Homo sapiens: one gene and its partners. The protein of the gene in region 2 interacts with the protein of the main gene of each other region in a biochemical or structural test. Each region holds a gene or a part of one and is shown on either strand. Other genes may lie near its edges.

Region 1 (8,403 bases), on a different chromosome or scaffold from region 2:
AGCCATGGCTGTAAGAATCACTACTTAATTTTTCATAAAACAACATATTTATAGTCAGCTCTTGTTTCAATTAAGTTTTACCTCTGAATTTATATAGCTTTCTATCTCTAGAAAGAACATGAGTATACTTTCTGAGAATTTTATCTGGGGGTCCTAGACTTCACTTTATATATTGCTGGCACAGTAACTTTCAATTAAGGTTTTCCTTTACAAAGAAAGGATTCAATGTTACCTCTGAGATGATCCTCACCCACTATGAAGATCACTAACAGCCATTACTAAGTGGCCACTACCTAGATCAGCAGTTGCCTAAATCTACCGAACTTACTTACATAAAAGCCAGCTATCACAAACTATAAATCTTTTTCTTTTCTCTTTCCTACATTTATTGTACTCTTTAATCTGTACACATCTTTCAAAGGGCCACCCATCCACTAACATACACATATCCATCTCATCTCCACAATTTTTGCTTTAGGAATTCCTCAATTTTTCCTAAGAAGAATATGTTATGAACATTTTGCATATGTACAACAAGAATGCTACATGAAAAGAATGAGACACTCTAGAACACCATAGATACTCTAGAGTTGATTTACTCTGGTGCTACTGAAGTACCATGCTTGCTTTTTACCCTTCATTGAACAAATGTAATACACAGAAATCAAGGTTTATAAAGCATCCATACAAAGAAAATGTAATTTCAACTAGTAAGTCCAAATATGGATGTGTCTTTTCTGACACAAATGATGTTCACTCATTCACCTACAACCAGATCTATATAACGTAGTGGTTAGGAGTGCAGGCTCAAGATAAATGCCAGTTCTACTATTATCTAACCAATGTAACCTTGGGCAAAGTAATTTTAAAATTTTGCTAAGCCTCATTTTCCTCATCTACAAATTGAGGACAACAACAGATCTGGCTCATGGGGTTGTGGGGTTTAAATGAAATCCTCTATGAAAAGCATGAACACTCGACCCCAATAGCTGCTTTAGTGAATGTTTAACATTTGGTCTGAGGAAGGCTCCAGTGTAATGGTGGAAGTCATAGCTACTTCAGGAAATTGTTCACTTTTAGACTGGTTTAGGTAACATTTTAAAAAGTCTAACAATATTAGCGAATACAAACACGTAATCAAAAGAATATTCCTATAACTCAAAGTTACTTTTTAAATGTAAATGTACCCCATAAGTATGCGTAAGAATTATGCTATTTTTCCAAATCTAACTCAAGAAGTTGTTTAGACATACCTGAAACAGAAAATTCCCATTTTAGCTCACTTGTTTTAAAAATTTCTAATTTATATATGGGGAAAATATGCATATTTAATTTCCACCCTACCCCCCCAAAGCCAAGTCTCTCATCTCAATTATGTTATAAAATAAAAAACTGACAAAGAATATCAAGGTATTTCACCTGGTACTACTAAATAGGCTATACAACTATCATAAATTAAAACTCTCTTTTGTTTGAGATATGTCATGCAATAATCCTAAATATACACAATGCACAAATACTTGCTCAACCATATTCCACTGATATTTTTCTGTCCTCAGTTTGACAGGAATATCAAATTTCCTTTCTTGACATACTTTCTGTTTGCTTTAAAATAACCATTGCACAGTGAGCTGGAATACATGGAGCCAGCACTTACTCATTTTAGTACAACACAATCTTCTCCCCTTCCTCTCTCAGAACTTTTGAGGGAAGAGAACTCAGGCAACCCACTCCAGCAATACTAAATAATTTTACATAATCCACAGACCCTATTTTTGTGACGTTGTAGATGTATATTCTGTTTCTTTACATCTCAAAGACTGCTCAAAGTTGTGTCCATGGTGTACTTTAACAATATTATTAATATTGCTTTCATAATATTATTTAATACTATTACATAAGAACATAAAAATGGCTCAACCACAGACATAGGTGGACTTTGTTTATATGTCAATTGTTTTCAAAAAATCATGTAAATAAAATCCTATTTCAAAAGCAGGAGGAGAGGTTAGGAAGGCTGTCATTTATTAATTACACATTCACACATACAAACAAACAAACAAAAATCCTGTGTAGTTAGTCTTTTCATAGTGTAAACTGCCCTTTGGGTTTGTTCCAGAAGTTTGCATGTTTCTAACAGAGTTTTCCTAAGTGTACAGCCATATAAATTTGGAAAAAGAAAAATTTTAGTGTTTCCATGTAGGAAACAAAAGCAGTCTTAGGGCAATCAATTTCCTATCCCTTTTGTTATATACATCACTACAAAGGATGATTGCGTGACATGGCCTTAATATGGCCATAAAAATGATTAACTTCTAGACTAAAAAAAGGATAACGCGCTAAATATATTCCACATATTTTTGCCTTGTAATTCCTGTAATTATTTTTCACTATCTTTATCTCCCAAAGAAAGATCTGGGAGCAATAAATCTTTCTCTCCAATAAAAAGCACTAACAATCAAAGGCGTTCCGTAAATCCAGAGAAAGTTTTGGCAACTAAGGCAGAATTTCTTCCGTCCCGTCCTTACTTCATGTATCTCCACCTAGGATATTCCGTTATTAATGCCAGTCAACAGTCACTGGCTAAAGCACTGGTCAGGTGAAGCTAAATAATAGAGGGTCTGGTTTTGTTTTTAAGAAAAACAAAAACCAGGTGATGAGAACCCTCCATACGAGGCATCCTAAGGTAAGGTGACGGAATTTTCCGACTGGAGTGTCGGAAACTAGCCTCTCGACTCCCGGAAGGAATGAACTGCGAGCCAGAGAGAAGACCAGGTCATTCATGCGGTCAGTAGCAAGGGCGGCGCTAAAACGCTGGGGTCGGGGCTCCCAAGGCGCTACCTAAACCCCGGACCCCAAGGCCAGAGCCACCCCCGACGGTGCAGCGCTCCGAGGGCGCAGCCCCAGCTCCACTCTCCCGCCAGCTCCACACTCACAGGGCAGAGGCGGTGAGGAGAAGACCGCCTGAGGCAGCAGGCGAGGCGGGAAGACACTCGGCGCCTGAGACAGAGGGAATGCCCCGATATAAGTTGAGGCGGGGGAGAGGACTAAAGGTCTGGAGGACAGGGGCGTCCAGAGGAGAAAGGGGCCTAACTCTCACCCTTGTCGCACGCCAGCAAGAAAAGCTTCTCATTCAGCGTATTCTCCTCCTTCACCTCCCGCACATCCTTCAGCGCCATCACCTCGTTCGGCGAGGAAGAGGATGGAGAGGAAGGCAGGGAGGAGGAGGAGGCGCCCGAGAGGTCCGTGCTCGGGTACAGGGCCGCCATCATCGCGGCCCATGAAGGGGGCAGGCCAGGAGACGGGGGCGGGGCCCCCACCGGCCCCGACCCCGACCCCGACCCCAGCCACGCCCCAGGGCTGGAAAAAGGATGAGTCGTTCCCACTGCTGCCTCGGCTCGAGGCCCGTTGGCCCCGAAGGGCGTCGCCTCCCCTGAGAACCAGCACTCGCCCTCCACTGACAGCCCCAAGTTGGTGGCGGCGCATGCGCGGCCCCGGGGCCAGCGACCCCTCCCCAGCCGCCGGCGCCCCGGCCGAGCCGGTCCGCGCCCGTCCGGGGACGACAGTGTGGCGCGCGCCAGGGCGGCAGCCGAGCACGGGGCCGTGCCAGGAGTCGCAGGGGCCGCGCCTGGGGCGGCCTAGCCCAGGAAGAGGACGAGAGATCTGTGGGAGAGGAGCTCCAAGAGGCGCTTCTGCGCACGTTGGGCTCCAGGGCTGTGGGAACCGCTGGCCCAGCTGCGCTCCGAGGAGATGTTCGCGACTCTGTCCTCACGTCATCCTCTGCTCCTCTGTAGCGACGACACTAGGGAGGAGCCTGCGGCAAGGGCGGGCTTGGGTGGGCGGGGCCTGCGGCAAGCGGGGCGTGGGTGGGTGGGGCCTGCGGTGGGGACGCACTGGGCTCCTGGAGCCCGCTGCAGCTTCCTTCGCTCTGGTGAGGTGAACCGCAGTCTGAGGAAGACTTCGCTCAATCGTCCCTTTCCACACCCAGGGTACTGGTTTAAGGTAATTAAGCAAATATGGAGCAGTATGTTAATTGAGTCTCTGACGACTTAATGTTTAGTCGAAATCCTTTGTGGAATTGTCCAGCTATTTCATATTCTGGTGCACTATGCTTTAAAGCACAATGGAGAGCCAGACTCGTGGGTTTGTATGTTGTACTCATTTTAGGCTGGAAATGAACTCTCATTTATAAAGGATATATAGATATATAATTATATTATGTTTAAATAATTTATACAAATATATAAATTTTTATTTCCATATTATTTCCATAGGTTTTTGAGGAACAGGTGGTGTTTGGTTACATGAGTAAGTTCTTTAGTGATGATTTGTGAGATTTTGATGTACCCATCATCGAGCAGTATACACTGAACCTAATTTTGTAGTCTTTTATCCCTCTCCCCCTTCCCAACCTTTCCCCGAGTCCCGAAAGTCCATTGTGTCATTCCTATGCCTTTGCATCCTCAAAGCTTAGCTCTCACTTGTGAGTGAGAACATACGATGTTTGGTTTTCCATTCCTGAGTTACTTCATTTAGAATAAGAATAATAGTCTCCAGTCCCATCCAGGTTTCTGCGAATGCCATTTATTCATTCCTTTTTATGGCTGAGTAGTATTCCATCATTATATATATATCACATATATATATACCACATATATATATATATATATATATATCACAGTTTCTTTATCCACTCATTGATTCATGGGCATTTGGGTTGGCTCCACATTTTTGCAATTGCGAATTGTGCTGCTATAAATATGCATGGGCAAGTATCTTTTTCGTGTAATGACTTCTTTTCCTCTGGGTAGATACCCAGTAGTGGGATTACTGGATCAAATGGTAGTTCTACTTTTAGTTCTCTAAGGAATCTCCACACTGTTTTCCATAGTGGTGTACTAGTTTACAGTCCCACCAGTAATGTAGAAGTGTTCCCTTTTCACCGCATCCACACCAACAGCTATTATTTTTTGATTTTTTTGATTATGGCCATTCTTGCGGAAGTAGGGTGGTACATACGGCATAGCAGTTTTGACTTGGAATTCCCTGATCATTAGTGATCTTGAGCATTTTTTCATATGTTTGTTGGCCATTTGTGTATCTTCTTTTGAGAATTGTCTATTCATGTTTTTTTGTTTTTTCTTGAGACAGAGTTTTGCTCTTGTTGCCCAGGCTGGAGTGCAATGGCGTGATCTTGGCTCACCGCAACTTCCGCCTCCCAGGTTCAAGTGATTCTCCTGCCTCAGCCTTCCGACCAGCTGGTATTACCGGCATGTGCCACCACACCCGGCTAATTTTGTATTTTTAGTAGAGACAGTGTTTCTCCCTGTTGGTCAGGCTGGTCTCGAACTCCAGACCTCAGGTGATCTGCCTGCCTCAGCCTCCCAAAGTGCTGGGATTACAAGCATGAGCCACTGCCCCCAGCCCTTTTCATGTTTTTAGCCCAGTTTTTGTTAGGATTTTTTTTTTCTTGATTATTTGTTTGAATTCATTGTAGATTCTGGATAGTAGTCCTTTGTCAGATGCATAGATTATGAAGATTTTCTCCCACTCTGTGGGTTGTCTGTTTACTCTGCTAACTCTTCCCTTTGCCATGCAAAAGCTCTTTCATTTAATCAAGTCCCAGCTATTTATCTTTCTTTTCATTGCATTTGCTTTTGGGTTCTTGGTCATGAAATCCTTGCCTAAGCCAATGTCTACAAGGGGTTTTCCGATGTTATCTTCTAGAATTTTTATAGTTTCAGGTCTTAGATTTAAGTTCTTGATCCATCTTGAGTTTATTTTTGTATAAGGTGAGAGATGCAGATCCAGTTTTATTCTCCTACGTGTGGCTTGCCAATTATCCCAGCACCATTTGTTGAATAGGGTGTCTTTTCCCCCACTTTATGTTTTTGTTTGCTTTGTTGAAAATCAGTCGGCTGTAAGTATTTGGGTTTATTTCTGGGTTCTCTATTCTGTTCCATTGGTCTATATGCCTATTTTTATGCCAGTACCATGCTGTTTTGGTGACAGTAGCCTTATAGTATAGTTTGAAATCAGGTAATGTGATGTCTCCAGATTTGTTCTTTTCGCTTCATCTTGCATTGGCTATGCAGGCTCTTTTTTGGTTCCATATGGATTTTAGGATTATTTTTTCTAGTTCTGTGAAGAATGATGGTGGTATTTTGATGGGAATTGCATTGAATTTGTAGATTGCTTTTGGCAGTATGGTCATTTTCACAATGTTGATTCTACCCATCCATGAGCATGGGATGTGTTTCCATTTGTTTGCCTCGTCTGTGATTTCTTTCAGCAGTGTTTTGTAGTTTTCCTTGTAGAGTTCTTTCTCCTTCTTTGTTAGGTATGTTCCTAAGTATTTTATTTTTCTAATAAAACAAAATACTTTTGCCGCTATTGTCAAAGGAATTGAGTTCTTTGTTTGATTCTCAGCTTGGTTGCTGTTGGTGTATAGGAGGGCTACTGATGTGTGTACATTAGTTTTGTATCCTGAAACTTTGCTGACTTCTTTTATCAGTTCTAGGAGCATTTTGGAGAAGTCTTTAGGGTTTTCTAGATATACAATCATATCATCAGCAAACAGCAACAGTTTGACTGCCTCTTTACTGACTTGGATGCCCTTTCTTTCTTTCTCTTCTCTGATTGCTCTGGATGGGACTTCCAGTACTATGTTGAAGAGGAGTGGTGAGAGTGGGCATCCTTGTCTTATTCCAGTTGTCAGAGGGAATGCTTTCAACTTTTCCCCATTCAGTATTGTGTTGGCTGTGGGTTTGTCATAGATGGCTTTTATTACATTGTGGTATGTCCCTTGTATGCCAGTTTTGCTGAGGGTTTTAATCATAAAGGGATGCTGGATTTTGTCAAGTGCTTTTTCTGCGTCTGTTAAGATGATCATGTGATTTGTTTTTAATTCTGTTTATGTGATGTATCACATTTATTGACTTGCATATGTTAAACCATCCCTGCATCCCTGGTATGAAACCCACTTGATCATGGTGGATTATCTTTTTGATATGTTGTTGGATTCAATTAGCTAGTATTTTGTTAAGGATTTTTACATCTATGTTCATCTGGAATATTGGTCTGTAGTTTGGTTTTTTTTTTTTTTTTTTTTTTGGGTTATGTTCTTTCCTGGTTTTGGTATTAGGGTGATACTGGCTTCATAGAATGCTTTAGGGAGGATTTCCTCTTTCTGTGTCTTGTGGAATAGTGACATTCTTCTTTAAATGTCTTTAAATGTCACAGGATCAGCTGTGAATCTGATCCTGGACTTTTTTTGTTGGTGATTTTTTTTATTACCGTTTCAATCTTGCTGCTTGTTATTGGTCTGTTCAGAGTATCTAATTCTTCCTGATTCAAGCTAGGTGGGTTGTATCTTTCCAGGAATTTATCCATCTCCTCTAGGTTTTCTAGTTTATGTGTGTAAAGGTGTTCATAGTAGCCTTGAATGATCTTTTGTATTTCTGTGGTGTCAATTGTAGTATCTCCCATTTCATTTCTAATTGAGCTTATTTGGATTTTCTCTCTTCTTTTCTTGATTAATCTTTTTAATGGTCTATCAATTTTATTTATCTTTTCAGAGAACCAGCTTTTTGTTTCTTTTTTTTTTTTTTTGTGATGGAGTCTTGCTCTGTCACCCAGGATAGAGTGCAGTGGCGCAATCTCAGCTCACTGCAAGCTCTGCCTCCCGGGTTCATGCCATTCTCCTGCCTCAGCCTCCTGAGTAGCTGGGACTACAGGTGCCCACCACCACGCCGGGCTAATTTTTTGTATTTTTTTAGTAGAGACGGGGTTTCACTGTGTTAGCCAGGATGGTCTCGATCTCCTGACCTTGTGATCTGCCCGCCTCGGCCTCCCAAAGTGCTGGGATTACAGGCGTGAGCCACTGCGCCCGGCCTATTTCATTTGTCTTTTGTATTTTTTTTTTTCCATTTCAATTCCATTTAGCTCTGCTCCGATCTTATTTCCTTTCTTCTGCTGGGTTTGGGTTTGGTTTGTTCTTGTTTCTCTAGTTTCTTGAGGTATGACCTTAGATTGTCTATTTGTGCTCTTTCAGACTTTTTGATGTAGGCATTTAGGGCTATGAGCTTTCCTCTTAGCACCACCTTTGCTGTATCCCAGAGGTTTTGATAAGTCATGTCACTATTGTTGTTCAGCTTGAAAAATTTTTAAATTTCCATCTTGATTTCATTTTTGACCCAGTTGTCATTCAGGAGCAGGTTATTTAATTTCCATGTATTTGCATAGTTTTGAAGGTTCCTTTTGGAGTTGATTTTCAGTTTTATTCCACTGTGGTCTGAGAGAGTGCTTGATATAATTTTAATTTTCTTAAATTTATTGAGATTTGTTTTGTGGCCTATCATATGATCTATCTTGGAGAAAGTTCCACGTGCTGATGAATAGAAT
Region 2 (8,359 bases):
AAGGAGGGGATCAAGCGTAAGAATTAAGAAGGCATGGACAGAGTCTAGGGGCCCTCATAAACATGGATCCAGGGGGAATTGGACTCCTGGCCTGTGTCAACTGAATATTTTTATGTGGTTTTGTATTTGTGTTTCCTTTTGGTTCTTCCTTAATATCCAGTCAGGTCATTTTGGAAGTTGCAGCCTGCATTGGCTGTAGTAAAGGAAGCCAAGGGGTGATGGATCAGAGCTCCCTTGGGCCCGGGGTGGTGGTGAGAACAGTAAGCGCACGAGCCCCTTGGGGGCCCAGGGACAGGGAGGTGTGCCACTTTCCACCAGTCTCGCCTCCTCACCTGAGCGTCCTCATCTAGATTTCTCCCCTGTTTAAACCTACAAAGCTTTCTCATTTTCTTTCAACAACCCCTTCCCTCTCAGGCAGGGATGGCCTCAGAGGCACTGGTCAATTCCTCTCCTGCTCAGGGAAGGAAGGTAACGGTTCAGTGGGCAGAGCACCGGCACTTTCCTAAATGCCTGATCCCATGCCTTCCCATGCACCTAGACTCCCAGATTGCTTGAGTCCTGGACATGCCATCCTAGAAAGCTGGGCAGAGAAAGGGGCAGGATCCAGCTTGTGCCCACCGATGATCCCTAAATGCTCCCACATCTGCTCGCTGGCTCTGAAGGTGTCTTCCTGGAGAATAATATCTGCTTTGGGATTTCTCCATCAGCATTTCTCCCTGTGACCTGGGTGAAGAAAGGCAACTTCTCCAAAGCTTCTATTTCCTATTTTGTTTTTGTTTTAATTTAATTTTATTTTTTTTTTGAGACAGAGTCTTGCTCTGTCGCCCAGGCTGGAGTGCAATGGTATGATCTCAGCTCACTGCAACCTCTGCCTCCCAGATTCAAGCAATTCTCCTGCCTCAGCCTCCCAAGTATCTGGGATTACAGGCATATGCCACCACACCTGGCTAATTGTTGCATTTTTAGTAGAGATGGGGTTTCACCATGTTGGCCAGGCTGGTCTTGAACTCCTGGCCTCGTGATCTGCCTGCCTCGGCCTCCCAAAGTGCTAGGATTACAGGCGTGAGCCACCGTGCTCGGCCTGTTTCCTATTTTGTAAAGTGAGAAGAGTAGCATGGACTCCCAGGGTTACCAAGAGTATTCACTGGGTCTGTGTCAGCAATGCACCAGGCACAGTGTCTAGACTGTGCTGCCTACTCCCCATTTTGAGGTGCAGAGCTGGGCCAAGAAATGAGTGACTACACAATTCTTCCTAACAAAAGGGCTACAGCACAGTCCATGGCAGCCTCTACCTGCAGGTCCTGGACAGGGCCCCAGGATAAGCTGTGGGAAGGAGAGGGGATATGGGGAGCATAAAGCAGCAGACCCATTTCTGAAGTGGGGAGATGGGAGTGAAGGTTTCAGGGGCCTGGGAGCATAAACATGCCCCTCCTTGGGGATCCTTGCCGGTTACTCCTATTTCCAATATGACCTAAGGAACTAACTCTGAGGCCAGAATTCCAGCTTGGACTTGCCAGCCGTGTGATGCTGCAGCAGTTACTTAACATCTCTGACCACCTGGTTTATCAACTGCAAAATGGTGGCAATAATGCCAGCCTCTAAGCTGCTGTGAGGGTTATATAGGAAAATGCTATATTTAAAGTCCCTACGTGAGGCCCAGCACTTAGTAAGCACTTTACAAATGGTAGTTGGGATTATTAAGGAAACAATCTACCCATTTCGTAAGGAGAAAAAGTAAGCCCAGAGTGAAGGAAAAACCACCTGGGGAAGCACCAGGAAACTCATTGGTAAAAGCCAGTGGGGAGCTAGAGTCCCCAGTGTCCAGTGCAGGGCCCTGCTGGAGAAAGTGCTGGAGCAAGCAGGGGGCCCACCTACCTCCAGGTAGACAACCCAGGGCATGACCAGTGTGGCGACGAGGAGGTCGGCCACTGCGAGGCTGACGATCAGGTAGTTGGTGGTGGTCTGCAGCGCCTTCTCGCGGGACACAGCCATGCACACCAGCACGTTGCCGAAGACGATGACAGCGATGAGCAGGGTGAGCAGTGTGGCATAGTAGTTGTAGTGGGGTCTGTCCGCCTTCCCGTCTGACCCGTTGAAGGGCCGGCTCCAGTTCTGCCTCTCCAGATCATCATCATACCAGGACAGATTCAGTGGATCCATCAGGGCGGTGGAGCCACTGGGTGGCCAGGCTCTGGCCAGGAAAAATGGACACAAGGTGTCAGTGAGAGGGCCTCTTGCAGAGGTCTCCAGGAAGAAGACCAACTCCTGGCATTTAATAATGAGAATTTTCCAACTCGGGATTTTAAGGTTTACGGCTAAGAATTTTCTAAAAATGTTGGGCCTTCTGCCACTCTTTTGCTAGCAAGTTTTTACAGCTGGTAGGACAAATGAGCAAACACAATTTTTTAAAAATGCATAATAAGATGAGCTTGAACAGAGCTGATCCATCATTTATTTATTCATTCAACAAACACTTCTTAAGCACGACCCATGCACCACACACTTCAGTTAACCAGGCTTGCTACCTTCTAGTCATCGAAACAGAAATGGGTATTCATTCATTCTTGATTCTATAAATATTTATTAAGCATTGTTCTATATAGTTCTAGAAATATAGGCAGGAACAAAATATACATGGTTCTGTAGCTCACATTCTAGGAGAAACAACAGCCAATTAATCAAGCAATTACATCTAAGGGTGATAGGGAGTAGGAAATGGAACAGGGAGAGAGATACATAACCTAGTTCAGGTATTCAGGGAAGGCTTTCTAGAGGAAGTGATGTTCAACAGACAAACAACTGAAGGATGTGTAGGAATTAGCCAGGTAAAGAACTAGGAGTCAGCAGAAGGTCTAGACATTGGAAGCAGTATATGCAAAGCACAGAGGTAGAGAGGTAGACAGCAGGTGGAGGGCCTCAAAGAGATTCTGGATAGCTGATGCAGAGGGACCTGGCAAGGGTTGAGTCTGGGGAGGTTGCAATAGGCAAGATCATAGAGGGCCTTAAAAGTCATGCTAGGAGTTTATACATGATCCTAAGGGCAGCAGGAACCACATGATCAGATTCGCCTTTCGAATAGGTGATTCTGACAGCACTGTGGAGAACGGAGAGGAGGGGCCCAGAGTGGAAGCGGGACACCAACTGGGAGGCTGTAGCAGGAATCCAGGTAAGAGATGATGAGGTTTGGCAGGATGCAGGGAGTGAAAGCCCTGCAGAATGGGCATCTCATCCCACAGAAGGGAAAGACTTCCTGAAGTGGGTATCATCTGGGATGAAGTAGAAGGAGGACTTAGCCTGCTAAATGAGAGGGGTGGGGGGATGTTCCAGACAGACAATATGACATGGTATCAAATCATCAAACAGCAAACAATTCTGTTTGGCCAAAAATGTAGGGTATGGCAGTAACGTTGAGGATAATTAAACTGCAGGGACATTTACAGGCCAGATTGTGTCTTGTCAGCTGGAGAGTCCCTGAGAGGTTGGGCCCAGAGACATGACCCTATTGGACTGGTGTTCTAGAAAGTGTATGGTGTAGAAGAGAGCTCAGAGGAGAGTGATGTTTTGGCTGTAATTTAGGTTAGAAATTGTGGTCATCTGAACGAAGATAGTGGAAACGAGGATGGAGAGACCTGTTCAGAATTAGGAGCTAAACTGCAAGTCAATTTCATGGTCCTTGGTCCTTGGATAGGTGTGGGGCAAAAGTGGGTATGGGACAAGCAGGGAGATAAGGAGTTGAGGGTAATGCTAGGATTTCTGCGTGGGGCTCTGGGAGGCTGGTGTCGCATATTCACAGAGAAAAGGGACCAGAGGGGCTCAGGAGCAGACTTGGGAGGCATCAGGAGTTGATGAACTTGACAGCCGGAGTTTTGGTTGTGACTGAAGCATAATGCATGGATAATATAGTTGGCTTTTCAGCTAACAAAAGTCTTCCTCTTTTACAGAATAGAATTAAACTTATCAGCATTCCAAGGTGTTTCATACAAAGCACATGACTTCCAGGTACTTTGCTACTGCAAATTGAAAACCACCAATTGATGCCATTTGGGATGAATGTGGTGCCATGTCCAATCAATGAACAGGGCACACCTCCAGCAATGGGTCAGAGAGGATGGTGGAAGAGGGTCTGCCCAATCTCCACACTCTCATCCCTGTCTGACACACCCACTCTTCCAGCTTTAGTAGAAGAATATGGATCATGTCCTACCAACCACCATCACTCTGGAGCCTCGGGGAAAAGCAAAGTGCCTAATTCCATGTGGGGTGACATGGAATGCCACCACGCAGCAAATCTTCCTGTTCTAAGGTAATGAAGCATATGTCATATTGATGCTGTATTCTGCAAAACCAACTGAGCCCTCTTCCCATTTGGAGCCCACAGCGGGAGGCCTGCATGTATGTATTGATCAGGTGCCTGGGGCTGCTTCTGACATTCATTTACTCAATCGGCATTTATTGAACCTGCTGGGCATAAAGCACTGTGCAAAGCAGTGTCAGGGGCCTGAGGCGTGTGAGGCACACTTACTGCCCCCATCCTGACCATCGCTCTCTTCTTCTCCCCCCACTCCCTGCTGCTGATGATAGCATCATATACTTGTAAAGGGTTTGATAGTTTGCTAAGTTTTTTGGATATACTGTCTCATTTATCCTCAAAACAACCCTCGGAGGCTTTTAATTATTATCCCTGTCTATGGCCATACTACCTGGAACATGCTTGATCTTGTCTAATTATTATCCCTACTTTAATAAGAAAGGGATTTGGAAAACTCTTCTGTTCACTTCCCTTCCCTCTGCTTTTCCAGTCCCTATGCATCCTTCAAAGTGAGTCTTGCCTAGAATCCTCCTGTCTTAGAATCCACCCATATCCTCCTGCCTGAGCCATCACCCACCCTCCTCAGGGTCCTGCAGCACTGAAACACACCCCAGTGCTGCAGGAGACACCTGTTTAGGAGTCTCTTTTTTTCACTGGGGTGTAGACATCACAAGAGTTACAACATGTCTTGCTCATTCCTCCTCTTGTTCTTGGAATGAACAAATAAAAACCATACTATCTTGTTCTTTCCCAACTCTTGACTCTGGTTTGTGGGCAGTACGTATTCAACAGATGTTTGCTGAACTGAATCAAAGGCTCTGTTAGTGCAACTGGGAAGAAAACCCCTTCCCACTTGAAAGGCACCTGCTAACATAGGCTACCAGATTAACAAGTGATGAAAAAGTAAGGCACCCCAAGGGTGCCATAGGTGCTGCATGTTGGGTCCTGTTACAGTCTGCACTATGCTCTTCCCCCAACCCACAAAATGTATATGTTGAAGTCCTAACCCCCAGTACCTCAGAATGTGACTGTATTAGGATACAGGGCCTTTAAAGAGTTGATTATGTTAAAATGAGACGCTTAGGGTGGGCCCTAACCCAATCTGACTGGAGTCCTTATAAGAGGAGCTTTGGACATAAAAAGAGACATCAGGGATGCGCGCACAGAGGAGAGACCAAGTGGGAATGCAGCAAGAAGGCGGCCATCTGCTAGCCATGGAGAGAGGCCTTAAGCAAAATCAGCCCTGTTGACACCTTGATCTGGGACGTCCCAGCCTCCAGAACTATGAGGAAACAGATTTCTGTTGTTCAATCCACCCAATCTGTGGAATTTTGTCATAGCAGCCAGAGCAGACTAATACAGGTCCCTAGAAGTAGACTCTGAAGAGGAAATCAGCCTGCAGGAAATGTACAGGGGAATGCTCTCAGGATCAAGATGTGCAAAGAAGTGAGGAAGCAGGACAGGCCAGAGGGAGAAGTCACAAGAAAGGCATCAGGTGACCCCACAGGGCACCCTGCCAGTTGCCTAAATGAGGGCAACAGGGTAGGGCCTTTAATCCCCTCTCATAGATGTCACAGCTTCTGGCTGTCCCAGGGAAAGCAGCGAGGCCTTGAAAGAGGCATCTCTCCTCAGCAGTGGGCAATTGCCAAAAACTGTCAGTTGCCAACACTCCCAGTAGATGGGGATGAGGGCTGTGGTCCTGCAGGGGGATCTGGGTGGCACTCCACCGTGTCCACTACAGTTGATGTTCAGGAGCATATGCACATGTGTGTGGCTGGGGCGTTTGTGGAGAACTTCCTGGAGGAGGGAGGATGTAAACTGGGATTTAATTTTTTTTTAATAGAGACAGAATCCCACTTTGCCACCCAGGCTGGAGTGCAGTGGCACAATCATAGCTCACTGCAGCCTCAACTCCTGGCCTCAAGTGATCCTACCACCTCAGCCTCCTGAGTAGCTGGAAATACAGGCATGTGCCACCATGCCTGGCTAATTTTTAAAAATGTTTTGTAGAGATGGGGGTCTCACTATGTTGCCCAGGCTGGTCTCACACTCCTGGCCTCAAGAGATACTCCTGCCTTGGCCTCCCAAAGTGCTGGGATTACAGGCACTAGTCTAGGATTTAAAATTATGAGTACAATGTAGATGGCAAATGTGAGCACTGCAGGTCAGGTGGGGTTGAGGGTGAGCATTCATTCTCTGGAGTGCTGGTTACTTCTGCAGGGTAAGGGAGAGTCCCTGTACCCAAGTTCTGAGAAAGGCCTCACACATTTGATTTTCTAATCTATTATTTATTATTGGTTGTTCTCGTTGCTTTTTGTTGCTAATACAAACGTAGTATATTTACACCATAGGAAAAAAAAGGGAAAACATGGCAAATGCCTAAATACCTGTAACCCCTATAAGTACCTTGGTACAGGGCTATCTTTTTGTCTGTTTGCTTGTTTGGGGGTTTTTTTGTTATTGAGATGGAGTCTTGCTCTGTCACCCGGGCTGGAGTGCAGTGGGGCTATCTCGGCTCACTGCAAGCTCCGCCTCCTGGATTCACGCCATTCTCCTGCCTCAGCCTCCCGAGTAGCCAGGACTACAGGTGCCCGCCACCATGTCCAGCTAATTTTTTTGTATTTTTAGTAGAGACGGGGTTTCACCGTGTTAGTCAGGATGGTCTCGATCTCCTGACCTCATTATCTGCCTGCCTCGGCCTCCCAGAGTGCTGGGATTACAGGCGTGAGCCACCGCACCCGGCCAGTACAGGGCTATCTTTTAACACCTGGTGTCAGTCCTGGTTTCTATCGTGTCTTCAGCACCTTATCTACTTGGGGCTTTCACCTCTCACAAGCAGGGGCAGCCTAGCTGGCTCTCACCATGTAAACATCAAGCTGAGCAGGAATTCAGACATCAGCAAATCCACTGCCACAGAGAAGGTACTCTAGCCTGAGAGGTGCTAGTATAACATTCGAGTTGAGGACTAAAAAACCTGGGTTCAAGTCCCAACTCTACCATTTACTAACTTTGGGGCCTCAGCCAGATTATTTGGCTTTCCTGAGCCCAGTTTTCCCATACACAAAATAGAGATAACAACAATTGTGAGTATTAAGTAAGATGACTCATGGCCATGTGCCAGGCACAGGTAAGCCCTTGAGAATGTCAACTTTAAAAATCAAACCAAGCAAAAGAATGAAATGAAACAAGCAATCAGACCACAAGCCAACGGCTCAGCAAGATGAAGTGACTGTTGCTGTTCAAATGCAGCTCACTAGGGTCTGAGGTCCTCCTGGGCCCACTGCCTCCTATGGCCCATCCTGAAAAATAGGTGGCTAGATGAAGGGAGATGGATTTCAAGATGCAGCCACCAACTCCTTGGGAGGAAGTAAAGGAAGGAAAAGACAAAGCCTGTCCCTGGGCCCTGGCTGTAGGACAAACTCAAGTGACCCTTGAGATGAGGTAGCAGCTGGCCTGGAAGATACAGCTCTCCCAGCCCAGCTGCTATAGCCGATGACTGTCATACTAATCACCACATTTCATAGACTCTAAGACAAAATCGAATGAAGATGCACCACTATTTTATATATCACTAGGAAAGAAAAAAATGCCATCCAACCCCAGTAGAGCTCCAAGATGTCATCCATTGTAAAATGCATTCTGATTTCAGAGACATTAAAATGGTGGGGGCAGGGGGAAGTGCATTGTAGAGTGGATAGCAATACAGGGCCTTCCCAGCATTTCTAAGCTGGTATTTTCTCAAGGGGCCTGAGAAAACCTGCTGGTCCCCAGGCTTCCCTGCTGCAGCTCCAGCCCATCCCTCCCTTTTGTCCTTCTGTCTCCGGGCTGCACAGATTGTTGGGCTCCAAGGGGCATCCCAAAAGAATACACAAGTGAGTAGCTTCTCCATCCTGGCTGGAGCTTGTGTTCATGGTAGCGGAGTGAGGAAAGGTTCTCAGTGCTGCTCCAGTTACGCTGGGCTGGTTCTGGCTCCAAAGAAGCCTGGTGAGTTCTTTGTCCACTCTGGAGCTTGTTGAGGGAAAATGCAAAGCCACATAACACATGGCACCT
Region 3 (8,359 bases), on a different chromosome or scaffold from region 2:
GGCTTCTCTGTCCCATTTGTTAAAAGGGGACACAGGCGTGCGCCATTGCGCACGCCTGTAATCCCAGCACTTTGGGAGGACGAGGCGGGCAGATCACAAGTTCAAGAGATGAAGACCATCCTGGCCAACATGGTGAAACCCCGTCTCTACTAAAAATACAAAAATTAGCTGGGCGTGGTAGTGCACGCCTATAGCCCCAGCAACTCGGGAGGCTGAGGCAGGAGAATCGCCTGACCCCAGGAGGCAGAGGTTGCAGTGAGCCGACATCGTGCCACTGCACTCCAGCCTGGAGACAGAGCGAGACTCCCTCTCAAAGAAAAAAAAAGGGCGGGGAGGATGATCATCTCTGCCTGGAGATAAATACCAATGATTACACAATCAAAGTGATAGTATTTATTGAAACTTACTGTATGCCATGTACTGCAAGAAGTGCTTTGAGTCATTTCACAGTAACCCTGTCAGATAGATGTGATTAATTATCCACTTTTTACAGAGGAGAAACTGAGGCTCAGAGAGGTTATGTCACTGGACTAAAGTTACGCAGCTGGAAAGTGCGAGGCGGTCTGAGTCCAGAGCCCTTCTTTCTACCATGACATTTACTGGGGGCAATATCTGGAAGTACCAGGTTGGTGTCCAGTGGAGCCAGGCAATTCATTGGTAGGCCAGGGCCAGTCCAGGTGGAGAGGTGTGTGAGGGGTGTGTGTGTGTGTGCCTGGTGAGGCAAGGGTGGCTTTGTGGACTGAATATTACTATAGTGCTGAGGGGTAGGGGTAGATAAGTACTGACTAGGAGCTCTCAGAGAAGGATTAGCCTTGGCCTTCTCCTTCCTGGCCAGGGTCCCCCAGAAGTGGGGAAACACCAGACTCCCTGCTCCCATTGGCTTTTAGGGAAGATGGGCTGGCTCTGGACACATCCCGAGGCCACAGTGGGGACTGGGCTAAGGAGGCCCTGTGGGCAGGGAGCTGAGCCTTGGTGGATGGGTGGGGGTGGAGCAGGCTGGCACTGCTTCCTTTGTGGGCTAGAGGCTTGTGGATCAGAATAGTAACAGCTAACATTTATTGAGCATTTATTATGTGCCAGGCCCAGTTTTAAGGGCTTCCATGTACAACTCATACGTTCTTCACAAAGCCCTGTGAGGTGTAGATGAGGTATAGGAGTTATTCTTCCCGTTTTACAGATTGATGGAGCTGTGGCTTAGATAGTTGTTCAAGGTCAAATAGCTAGGCTGTGGGGGAGTCAGGATTCAAACCTAGGCAGTGTGGGTCAGAGCCATGTTCCTGAAGGCCATGCCAGGCAGCCTGTAGTTTCTCAGAGGCCATACTCTGTTTTGTTCAAGTTGAAATAGTCACTCAGTCAGATGCATCCCTCTCCTCAAAGGCCTCCCAGTCTAGCTGGGAGAGATGCAGACATGACACACTAAAAGTAAAGAGTGTGCTATTGCATAGGCTCAGCATGGATTCCTATTTTGGTGCTCAGGGAAGGCTTCAAGAAGACGGGGACCTTTGAGCTGGGCACTGAAGGCCAAGTCGGATTTCGATGGTTGAAGGGGGAAGGGCACCCACTTCCCCAGGTCAGAGGGGAAGGAAATAGGAATGCCTCTGAAGAAGAGTGGGCGGTCTGATGTGCGTGGAACAGATAGTGTGTGTGGCGGAGTGTGAGCTGGGAGGTGACTCAGAAAGTCACCTAGTGTTTGGGTTTTTGATGGAGCTCTGGAATCCACCAGACGTAGGCTATAGTCACAGCAATGCATTGTATTAGCCACGTGGCCTTGGGCACATCACTCAGCTGGCCCAAACCTCAGTTTCCTCATTCGTAAAATGCAGATAAACATGCCTGTCTCACAGGGACCATGTTGTGGTTGTTATATAAAGCACCTAGTGTAATGCTAACACATTGCAGGAACTCAGTAAACATTACTTCTCTCCCGCTTCTGTCTCTCTTAAATGTCAGGCCAAGGTGTTTCGACTTGACGTGAGCCGGGATGCTCTAGGAATCTTTGCAGGATTTTAGTCTGCTGAGGAGCATGACAGAACTGTGTTTTGGGAAGGTCCTTTTGGCAACCGTATGATCCACAGGAGAGGGTGGACGTGATCTTACAGGAGAAACCTTAACTGTGGGGACTTGGAGGGCTGGGGAGGGATCAAGATTGGCACTCATTAAGGTGTCCCTCTGGTAGTGGGTGGTTCGCCAGGTTGGAGAAGGAGGAGCTTGGAGTGGGTAAGGCCACAGGGTCAGGAATTCTGTTTCAGGCCTGGTGAGTTTGAGAAGGGCTGGTCTCCCTTTAGTCATCTGGAAGATTGGGTAGCATCTTTTTTGCACATCTGGCCTGTTTTTCCTTTGAATTATTTCTTTTGAATAAATCCCCATCAGAGCTTCCTCTATAATAGCAGTAAATTGGGACTAAGTGTCCAACAATAGGAAGATGATTGGGAAAGCTTTGGAACATCCACTGGATAAAATAATACGCAGTGGTGAACACCCACAGAAAAACTGCTTGCAGTGGATGGAGCTGTGCAATTGCAAAGCTCTTTTGCATCCTTGATTCATTTTGTGCTTATGACTGCTCTGCGACAGAGGTGGGGCCGGGGCTAGATCCTTTCTGTGTTTGAAGAGAATGACGCTAGACTCCAGTCTCCTTGAAGGCAGAGTTGAGTTCACATTTTATTCATTGTTTCGTCGCAGCATGTTGCTCAGTGGTTTGCAAATACTTGTCCGATGAAAGAATGAGTGAACTAATCAAGAGGGGAAGTGACTTGATCAAGGTCACTCAAGTTGTAAGACATAGTGCCTGCCATATTCTTGCTATTCCCTACTTGCCACATTCTTCTCACTAACCACTCACTATCTTCGAGGGGAATAGGACAGAGAGGTTCCCAGTGAGGACCTGGCACTTGCATAGAACAGGGTTTAAGTCTTCTTTCTGTTTTTACTAGCTGTGAGGCAATTGGCAAGTTAATTAATCTTTCAAAGCCCCAGTTTGCCCAGCTGTAATGTGGATAGTCCAAGTACCTGGTTTTAGGGTTGTCATCAAGATTGAATAAGTTAAGGCATGTAAACATCTTGGCATGGTAACTAGTACATAGTGAAGTATCCATGAACATTAGTGGAGATGATGATGATGTCATGATGTGATGTCATTAATGGTCTGATACAATTAATGTTAAATGGGAAAGAAGACCCATAAGATTATCAGTATTCATATTACAATGGTATAAAATTAGGTATGAACATAGATACAGATTGGAAGAAAACAGGTAGAAAATGGAGTTCCAGCAAGCATATGGGAAGTGAATAAAACAGAAAAACAAATATTTCTTTACTGTTATATTTACTTTTCTTTAGTTTTAATTACAAAAAAAATTTGTGGAAAATCTAATAATTCAGAAGTGTAGGCCAGGCACGGTGGCTCATGCCTATAATCCCAGCACTCTGGGAGGCTGAGGCGGGTAGATCACCTGAGGTCAGGAGTTCAAGACCAGCCTGGCCAACATGGTGAAACCCCATTTCTACTAAAAATACAAAAAGTTAGCCGGGCATGGTGGCTGGCGCCTGTAATCCCAGCTACTCAGGAGGCTGAGGCAAGAGAATCTCTTGCACCCGGAAGGCAGAGGTTGTGGGGCAGTGAGCCGAGATTGCGCCATTGCACTCCAGCCTGGGTGACAGAGCGAGACTCCGTCACAAAAAAAAAAAAGAAAGAAAGAAAGAAAAAAAGTGTATTCTCCCCTTAGATCCCCAAACAAATCCTACTCTCCAGTCGTAGCTAATAACAGCATGTTGTGTATCCTTCCAGGATATTTTCTATACCAACATAAACATACAAACCAGAATGGGATCATACATTGCATTATTGTTTTACAACTTGCATTTTTCATGTAACTACACATTGACATCTTTTTATGTCAGTAGATATAAAATCTATCTCAAAAATTTTTGCAATAGGTATGTTATACTTTCATAATTAAATTTTTAATGGATAAACCCTACTAATTTGGCCAGCCCCCCTGTTGATTGACATTTGAAGTTGTTTCCAATTTTACGGTATTCTAAGTAACGCTAACTGAACTCTAACAGTATTTAGACAATTAGTGAAAATCAAGTGAGAGAAGGAGTCAGAAACCATGAGACCGTGAGAGTTGCCCTCAAAGGTCTGCTGCTTCTCCCTTCTCCTGTTCCCTCCTCTCCTCACTGGAGCCTGGGGGAACTGGTCTTGGAGGAGGCCATCTCTCTGTCACCCTCAAAAGGTGGTGATGTCCCAGGGAAAGACCCTTTCTTTCACCCACCCAGTATGGAGCTCTCCTAGGAAATTTTCAAATTCTCTTAGGATGCTCTAAGCTGCTGCTTGGGCTGTGCAGCTGCCCACACCCAGACTGTCCTTGGACAAGCTTTCTACCTTCTCTGTACCTCAGTTTGTCCATCTGTCTGGTGGTGATCAGAGCCATTGCTGCCACTGAGTGTCTTCTATATGTCAAATACTGTGCTAGAGCAAGCTTCATGTGCATTATCTGTTTTTCTATTTTTTCTTTTTATTTTATTCTTCTTATTTTTTTGTTTGTTTGTTTTTTGGGTTTTTTTGTTTTGTTTTTGAGATGGAGTCTTGCTGTGTTGCCCAGGCTGGAGTGCAGTGGCAGGATCTCAGCTCACTGCAACCTCCGCCTCCCCGGTTCAAGCAATTCTCCTGCCTTGGCCTCCCAAGTAGCTGGGATTACAGGCACGTGCCACCTGCCTGGCTAGTTCTTGTATTTTTAGTAGAGACAGGTTATCACTGTGTTGGCCAGGCTGGTCTCGAACTCCTGACCTCAGGTGATCTGCCTGCCTCAGCCTCCCAAAGTGCTGGGATTACAGGCCCAGTCGTTATTCTTGTTTTTTTAAAGACAGCCTGTCACTCTGTCACCCAGGCTGGAGTGCAGTGGCATAGTCACAGCTCACTGTGACCTCAAACTCCCAGGCTCTAGTGATCCTCCTGCCTCAGCCTCCTGAGTAGCTGGGACTACAGGTGCACCCCACCATGCCCGGCTAATTTGGGGGGGGCACAGGGTAAAGACAGTGTCTCGCTCTGTTGCCCAGACTGCTCTCAAACTCCTGGGCTCAAGCAATCCTCCCTCCTTGGCCTTCCAAAGTGCTGAGATTACAGGCGTGAGCCACCACACCCTGCCTATCTCATTTAATTCTCACTATACACCTTGGAGGTGCAGGGGATAGTCTTCTCAATAGAGGTTAAGTAACCTGCCCAAGGTCACCAAGCCTGTGGCATCAGGATTCCAGCTCTGGCTCATAAGCCCATGTCTGTAACTGCTGTTTCCTGCCCACTCTCAACAGTGGCTAATTGGTGAGGTCCAAGCAAAATGATTATAAAAAGATCCTTTAAGTTGTAAAGTGCCCTGCATGTGGGAGGGATTGATACTGCCGTTATTATTTCTACATCCAGAGCAACAGTAGCTTTGGTTATATGGCTTACAGCAAGTTGGAGGTCGTGGGATGTAGCAGCATTGAGTGGGGAGAGCACTGGACTGTGAGCCAGCAGACTTGAGTCCTAGTCCTGGCTCTCCTTGAAACTGACTAGCCATGTGGCCTTGGCCACTAAGCCGCCTGGGAAATAAGCTCACCTACTCCGTGTGGCCCTTGTGCAGCTCAAATAAGATAAAGCCCAAAAGACAGCCAGCATGTTGCCCAGCTCTCGGAGGATACCCTGCTAACGGGAGGTCTCTCTCTGCCTTCTGCATCGTCATCAGGATGGGCCAGGTGGGACGCATGTCTCCGTTTTAATGCTGTTACTCTGCAGTTCTGTGCTGTCACGTGGTCCCCAGCCCACCACTGCACATCAGCCTGAGGCTCCCTAGTGGCCCGTGAAGCTTTTGGGCAAGAAGCCAAGGCTGATGGGTGGTGGCCTTTTCACATTGTTTGGTCTAAAGTGGTGTCCGTGGGTACTGCAAACCTCTGACGAATTGCCGTCTCCCCACTGCCATGTACAAATCCAAGCACCAGACAGGATGACTGCAGACTCAGCTCCCTTTTTGATCCTTCTTGCCTGGCTGTGAAAGTGGCTTGAGGTCTCAGAGGCAGCTCTCTCAGCCTGTACCCTCCATCCTTTCATTCACGTCCATGTAGACATTATCACTCAGGGAAGTGAGTGTTCCATACTGGGGAAGTCCCCTTGGGAAGGAAGTCACATCATCTCCAGCAAGTGAGAGAAAGAATAAGCCCTAATAGGCACTCTTTCTGTTTTTTTTTTTTTTTCTTGTAATTCTTCTTTTTTCTTTTCTGACTCCGAAAGTAATACATGCTCATAGTAGAAAATTGAAAAATACGGAGAAAAAGGCCCCTATTTCCTTCTCCAAGGGAAGGCTATTGTTAACATTTTAGTCTTTGGACTTAATTGGAGAGTAATATTTCTGGAGCAAATATTTCTAATATTCTGGTATGTGTTTAGTGTTTTACAGGCATGATCTGATTCCATTTTCACAGTAAGCCTGTGAGGTATGTAAGTTTATCATCATGACTTTACAGATGAAGAAACTGAGGCACAAAGAGGTTAAGGGGCTTCCTGACGGTTCCCTTGCCTTCCTTGACTTCTTAGCTTATTCTGCCTCTTCTCAGGCTCCCCTTATCCTAAGTGAGCATCAGGTGGTGGATCAGTCAGATTCTGACAGGAAACAGAATTCCACTCAGATGCTTCACCTGAGGAGATGTTAATAAAGATGTGAGCAGGGTGAGGGGAACCCACATGGGATGGTGAGGCACCCACAAACTAACAGTGACAGAAGGCATTACTAGCTCTCGGCCTGAATGAGCAGGAGGGAGTGGTGTTACCTGAGTTCCGTGACTGGTAGAGGTGGGCAGGGAGCTGTCGCAGAGGGGCTCAGCCACCACCAGGACCACAGAGAGAGAAATTGGGGAAGATACACCCAGGATCTCTCTCCTTCCACCTTCTGAATTCCTGCCAGTGCCTTCTTCTTTATTATTTTTTTTTTAAGACAGAGTCTCTGTCGTCCAGGCTAGAGTGCAGTAGCATGATCTTGGCTCACTGCAACTTCCACCTCCCAGGTCTGCCTCAGCCTCCCTAGTAGCTGGGACTACAGGCGCCTGCCACCACACCCAGTTAATTTTTATATTTTTAGTAGAGACAGGGTTTCACCTTGTTGGCCAGGCTGGTCTCAAACTCCTGACCCCAAGTCATCCACCCACCTTGGCCTCCCAAAATGCTGGGATTGCAGGCGTGAGCCACTGTGCCCGGCCCCTGCCAGTGTCTTCTATTGGCCAAATGGAACCAGAAACCAGGAGGCAAGGGAGCTCAAGGGACAGTCCAATGGGCCAGCCTCCTGCTTCTTCAAGCAGGTCATGGATCTGGGGGTGCACATGGAGACTAACAACCCAAGCGACATGGTTGTAGGGAGATGGGAGAGACATGTCCTCTGACTTCCCAGAAAGAGTTGTCTTAGTAACTGACTATTAAAAACATCATTCAAAACAAGAGACTTTTTTTCTGCCTGGGAGTCTCTTGGTGTTTTGGTGTCTCCTCCCTCCCCTGCCCCCCATCTCCTCTCTCACCTGGTTCAGAATTTCCAAGAACACCTGGGCAACAGTCTTTGGTGTCATCGGTGTGCAGGGTTTAGAAGAGACAACCTTGCTTGCATGATACATGTGGCTGTGTGTGTTCTCATGTTGTTTCACTGCTGTGCCTATGCATACAAAGACATGCTTCTTGTGTACATGTCATAAGCATCTATAACATAGTCTCCTCTGTATCCAGCAGAATATTCACTTTTTATTTATTTATTTATCTAATTTTATTTTTTTGAGATGGAGTCTTGCTCTGTCTCCAGGCTGGAGTTCAGTGGCATGATCTCGGCTCATTTCAACCTCTGCTGCCGAGGTTCAAGCAATTCTCCTGTCTCAGGCTCCCGAGTAGCTGGGACTACAGGAGCCTGCCACCATGCCCGGCTAATTTTTGTATTTTTAGTAGAGATAGGGTTTCACGATATTGGTTAGGCTGGTCTCGAACTCCTGACCTCAGGTGATCCACCCGCCTCACCCTCCCAAAATGCTGGGATTACAGGTGTGAGCCACTGCGCCTGGCTATTTATTTATTTTTGAGACAGAATCTCGTTCTGTCACCCAGGCTGGAGTGCAGTGGTGCGATCTGAGCTCACTACAACCTCTGCCTCCCAGTTTCAAGCAATTCTTCTGCCTCAGCCTCCCAGGTAGCTGGGATTACAGGCACGCACCACCACACTTGGCTAATTTTTGTATTTTTTCTAGGAACAAAGTTTCACCATGTTGGCTGGGTTGGTCTTGAACTCCTGGCCTCAAGTGATTTGCCTGCCTCGGCCTCCCAAAGTGCTGGGATTACAGGCATGAGCCA
Region 4 (5,569 bases), on a different chromosome or scaffold from region 2:
ATTTCATATTTGGTACTTCTAACTTTAGAAAGATGACTTAGTATAGTTTCATGTTTTTGAGATACATAAGACATTTTCATCCAGAAATTTCAAATATCAGCAACTGAGGTCTAAAGAGATGAAGGGCCTGACTTGCAGTCACTCCACAGCAGCTATGAAAAAAAATATCAGTTTCCTGCCTTCCCCCAAAGTACAGGGCATTTTGCATTCTGAATGCCAAGACAGCACAGTGAGTTGTCTGCTGGGTGTGATTAAACCTCTCAAAGTACATTGGTGCCCTGAAAGCATGTCAATGTGGATCACACTTCGTTTCCAGAGAGGTAACGTGGCTCTTTATGTGCAGCCTCAGGAAAAGGTTTTCTTAAAAAAAAAAAAAAAAAAAAAAAAAAAAGAAATTTGGTAAAAAAATTTGATTAGATCTAAAGGAAATCATAAAATAAGTCGATTAGAATTAATTAAAATCCTTTATTAAAATTATTTAAAGTAATAAAATTTTGGTACAATTCTTACTCAAGCATGGAAAAACAATGTTTGCAAATGTTAGAGAAAAGAACAATACTAACTCGCAAGGAGCTGAAAGAAGTTTAGAATGGCTGAAGTATAGTGTGTGAGAGAATGAAGCTGAGAAGCGATGCTGGTACCAGAAACCCAGCCCTGCAAGATTGTAAACGAAAGAGACAAATGAGCTTATTTGCCTTTCAGACACACCTTGTTGTCTATCAGGCATTTCTCATCACTTAAAAACCTTGTGGGCTGGGTGCGGTGGCTCAGACCTGTAATCCCAGCACTTTGGGAGGCTGAGGCGGGCAGATCACGAGGTCAGGAGTTCAAGACCAGCCTGGCTAACATGGTGAAATCCCCTCTCTACTAAAAATACAAAAATTAGCCAGATGTGTGGCAAGCTCCTGTAATCCCAGCTACTCAGGAGGCTAAGGCAGGAGAATTGCTTGAACCCAGGAGACAGAGGTTGCAGTGAGCTGAGATTGTGCCACTAGACTCCAGCCTGGGCAACAGAGAGAGACTCTGTCTCAAAAGACAAACAAAGAAACAAACAAAACCTTGTGTTTTCTCCAATAAGTAGCTCTTCTATCATGGTTTTAAAAATAGCATGCGATAATATTTCACTAGGTAAAATAACTAGTCAAGGAATTTATTTAAATAGATTCAAATGGCTCCACTATATTTAATTATTTTAGAAAAGGTTTCCGTGATACACTGTTAGATAAAAACATTTGCTAAGTTATAGGTATAGTGTGATGAAATTCTTGATAAAAATGATAACAAAACCATAACCTATATAGCTGCATGTATATTTATATATTAATACATTTGCAAAGGCAAAGGAAAAACAGGGAAAAACAGCAAATTATTACCAGTGAGTCCATTAGGAGATTAGGAATCAAGGAGAGACTGCAAACTTTAATAGAGCTACACAAAACTTTTTTGAGTAATTAAAGATAGAATTTTCTACCTTTGCAATTCAGATGATGGAGATACATGAGCTGACTGAAACAAATACAAATGTTCCTGAGCAGCACTGTCCAATAGAAATGTATTGCAAGGCACAAATGCAAGCCACATACGTATTTTTCAGTTTTCTAGTAGCCACATTGTAAAAGGAAAAAGAAACATCAAACTCATTTACTTAGTATATTTTAAATCAATACTTCATAAATACTATCAGTTCAATATGTAGCCAACATAAAATATTTATGAGCTAGTTTACATTATTTTCATACTGTCCTAGAAATCTGGTGTGTGTTTCACACTTACAGCACATCTTAATTCAGACTTGTCACACTTACAAGTGATTAATAGCCGTATGAGTATAGGAGCTACGTTACTGAACAGTGCAGCTCTAGAGGAAATTAACGGTTTTGCTACTGGTGAATTTGACTTGCAGAGACGTCTTCACTGTCAGCCTAGTAACGGTGTGACTGTATCCAGGCTTGGTCCCATTGTCCCAATCTTAGTTCAACTGTACATTGTCCATCTCTAATGTTTTTCAGTTGAGAAGCTTTGATATAATTTAATACATTTTATTATTACCAGTATGCATACAGGTTATCATAAAATCTACACTTCCAGTGAAAATGAACAGTGTATTTTCTGAAAACAGTAAGAAACCAGCTTTTTAAAAATTCTCTTAACACAACTTTGTAGAAAAACAAAAGATAATATGGTATTAATTCTGAATTTTAACTTGAATGTTTGGACAACTATATTTTCTACAAGGGCAAAGAAGACAAAATGTTCCCCAAATAAAAAGTCAGTGGTCAAGGCATTTATAATGTGATGCCTCATCCAAATATCTAGATGAGGAGGTTTTTGTTTAAGCCCCAACTTGACCACCAAACACATGGGTAAATTTAGATAATTTCCATAAATTCCCTGGGCTTTACTTTCCCCAGTTATCTACAGTGAACTTATTTAACATGATTCTAAAATTCAAATTAAAAAAGGCATGTGATAACACTGTATAAATAAAATGTCTTTTCAGACATTGTAAAATCAGAATAATGGTTTTGAAGTTAAGAGGAATGCCAGTAATATTAAATTTCTAAATTCTATGGTTAGTTTTAAGTCAGAATTTCAGATAATACAGAGAAAGAAAAATATATTGTAAGCATATTTACAGGGCCACAATGGATGGTTCTTACTAGGTTGAGTTTTAAGGACACTGAGCATGGAAGGCAGCTGTATACACCATAGAAGACAGCTAAAAATACAATGCATGAGGACTAAGAATGGACAGATTTCAAAACTTGGTGGCCTCTCTTCAATAAAGAGCTGTGAGACTGGATAGTCATTTACTCAGCTAAATCCCAGAGTTATTAAGGATTATTGAATGTTAGAAGAATATATTCTTATGCTATTGTTACTTATGTTTCCTCCACCTTTGCTAGAAAATTGACTTTGCTTCTTTGAGAACAGCATGGTGAGTCTACTATCCTTGACTTTTCATCAATTTGTTTCATCACTAAAGTATTTCAAGTTGCTGTCTACGTCAAGGCAAGAAAGTGAGTATGTTTTTGCATTAGTTTAATTGCCATCCAGTAAATAGAGTAACTAATTTAAGAAAATTTGATATACAAATATTCAATTCATGAAACAGATACATTTTGAGGATGTTTAGCACTTTGAAAAATTACTCATGATTTTATAAAATAATTCACCCCATTTTAAAAAATATAGCCAATTTCCTTACTGAAGTTAATATAGATTTATTTGCACAGAAATTTTAAGGAAAACCTTTATTACGAATAATGAGGTACATCTTTATAGCATACTTTCTTATAAATGGGACTTCCAAAATACAATTGTGATAAACAAAGTGTTTTAAACTTACCTGCTAGTCTATTAAACTGAATTTTCAACACACTCCTTCACCTAACTCAGACACAAAATTTAAGAAAAACAGATTTTTTAAGATTAAGAGAGTACGAAAAATGAGAAACATTATTTATGTAAATGAAGGTAATTTCAAAGTTCTCTGTAGCATTTAGAAATTTCTGTGGATAGAAATATGAATAGAAACGAACACCCTGAAGTACGCACTTACAAACCTCAAAGAAACAGTATTTCTTTGCTTGCTATCCTGCTGTTGTTTGACTTTTCTTATTTTATCCCTACTCCTCATCTTCATTAATGCTACATAATGTCACTACGTATTTAGAATAGCATTCAATTCTAGTGATATTAGTAACATCGGGTACTAATAATATCCAGCACTTTGTTCATACTCATAAACACATCTGTCAGCAACATCTGGGGGTTGTTAGAATCATCCTTTCTAGGGCACTGAAAAGGAGGGTCTTACTTGCTCCAAATACATTCCTCTATTACCATCATGTCCCCCTATAAAATGTCAGCACCTTAACCCCTGATATAAATAAGCTACTGGGGGAAAAAAGGTTTTGTTGCTTGTACTGTTATTGGTGTTGCTTGACGGAACAGAGAGAATTTGAAATTAAATTCTGGTAAAGTATGTAAAATGGTTATGTATAGTGTCCTTACTTTGGGAAAAAACAAAATAAAACAACAACGCACAAGAGAGGCAAAAAGAAATTAATAGAAAATATCCCAAATATTAACAATAGGCCTACAATTTCTCTACTACTGTAGGTATGATTTAGAAAAAAATGAGTATTTCAGTAGCCCCAGGATTTGCTCTGAGTCCTAATATACTTGAGATAAAGGTGTTCTTGAAACAGTAAATGCATTCATTTAGGCTTGTGTTTCTCCAAATCTATCTGGCCCATTCCTAAATTCCCAAAAACCAGGTTTAGGAGTGAACAGGGGCTTAGTGCTCCTGGCTTTTCTGAAAATTAAAATCTAGTATTTCAAATTGAGTTCTGAGATCACATAATAAATATGTTTTTAAAATCTACTAACTTTAATGTAATTTAGTCTAAAGAATCAAATACAGCACATTTTATATTTTGCACACTTCTCTTGCTTTAGAAGAAGGGACTCTTATGAAGCATACCAAACTCATTCTCTCTCAAGGTATAGGACTTCAGAAGTGGCAATTGTAACCCCTGTATATGCATGTTTTATAACTTGCTCTTTTTATGTTCTGAAAGGCAGTTACAATGCAGTGGTGAAGGGAATGGCTCTGATGGACACATCACAGCTCCATCATGAGCTGTATTACCTTAGCCAGTTAGTGCTGGTCTCAGTTTCATCATATGTGAAATGGGGATAAAAACAGGAGCTACTTCAGAGGGCTGTAAAGAGCAGTACATAAATGTTAACAGGTGTATAGGAATAGAACAGAGGCTGGCATTGTTATTGCTGTTATTCCTTATTTTTGATGTTTGGTAATGAGAAACTGAGTGCCATAACATTATTCAGTTTGGGGCCAATGATAAATCACATGCAATTTCTGAGGTTCGCAGAGTAATTTTTGAAATAAAATGAACTTAGCATTTTTCTATTGATTTGAAATAAATGCTAATTTTATGTGGTGAAGAAACTTCCCGTAGTGGCTTAAATAGACACAAGCAATGTAAAATTTAAGCTTTAAGTTTCTAGTATCAATTTTATGTAAGTTGCGAACACTTTCCTTGTAATAGTTCAGTGAATTGTTATAAGCTAAATTACCTTGCAAACAATAGAAAGAAAAACAAGAAATAAGAATGTTTTTCCTATAGGCAAAACTATATATCTATATCTGCTGATAAAATTAATAATGATTTTTGAGTGATTTAATTTTAAAGAAATATATAAAGATTACTGGTGAAAAGAGGAGACTGCTAGTTTTTTTGTACTTCTTTTGAATTGATTACAATATTGCGTTGATTGAAAATACTGGAATTCAACTTTACTTAGATTTAGATTGTTAGAATAAATTCATTTTCATTTGGATATTATTAGTATGTAATCATCTTGCTTGTTTAAGATACTTACAATATTATGGTTTATTATTTTTTTATAACAGAAATCTTGCCATATTTTTGAAATTCAGTTATTCATAAAGACTCATATTTATACTGATAAGCAGTTGAATCTGAAATAGGTAATTAAAAAAACTGGAGGGGCGAGTTTTTTTCCTGACAAAATGTCG

Evidence for each region.
Region 1: the proteins of DRD2 (region 2) and TRPC1 form a complex in vitro, tested with the Homo sapiens proteins (one study listed by BioGRID).
Region 3: the proteins of DRD2 (region 2) and EPB41L1 form a complex in vitro, tested with the Homo sapiens proteins (one study listed by BioGRID).
Region 4: the proteins of DRD2 (region 2) and TRPC4 form a complex in vitro, tested with the Homo sapiens proteins (one study listed by BioGRID).

What each region holds. Positions count from the first base shown.
Region 1 is NC_000003.12:142,719,429-142,727,831, reverse strand, and holds the start of TRPC1 (short transient receptor potential channel 1), read right to left. Parts: upstream 3,799-8,403; 5' UTR 3,273-3,798; coding exon 3,101-3,272; intron 1-3,100. UniProt on the Homo sapiens protein: Forms a receptor-activated non-selective calcium permeant cation channel. Forms a heteromeric ion channel with TRPC4 or TRPC5 that has reduced calcium permeability compared to the homomeric TRPC4 or TRPC5 channel.
Region 2 is NC_000011.10:113,422,492-113,430,850, forward strand, and holds part of DRD2 (D(2) dopamine receptor), read right to left. Parts: intron 2,192-8,359; 5' UTR 2,161-2,191; coding exon 1,876-2,160; coding exon of another isoform or gene 1,872-1,875; intron 1-1,871. UniProt on the Homo sapiens protein: Dopamine receptor whose activity is mediated by G proteins which inhibit adenylyl cyclase. Positively regulates postnatal regression of retinal hyaloid vessels via suppression of VEGFR2/KDR activity, downstream of OPN5.
Region 3 is NC_000020.11:36,156,911-36,165,269, forward strand, and holds part of EPB41L1 (band 4.1-like protein 1), read left to right. Parts: intron 1-8,359. UniProt on the Homo sapiens protein: May function to confer stability and plasticity to neuronal membrane via multiple interactions, including the spectrin-actin-based cytoskeleton, integral membrane channels and membrane-associated guanylate kinases.
Region 4 is NC_000013.11:37,630,664-37,636,232, forward strand, and holds the end of TRPC4 (short transient receptor potential channel 4), read right to left. Parts: 3' UTR 1,400-5,569; downstream 1-1,399. UniProt on the Homo sapiens protein: Forms a receptor-activated non-selective calcium permeant cation channel. Acts as a cell-cell contact-dependent endothelial calcium entry channel.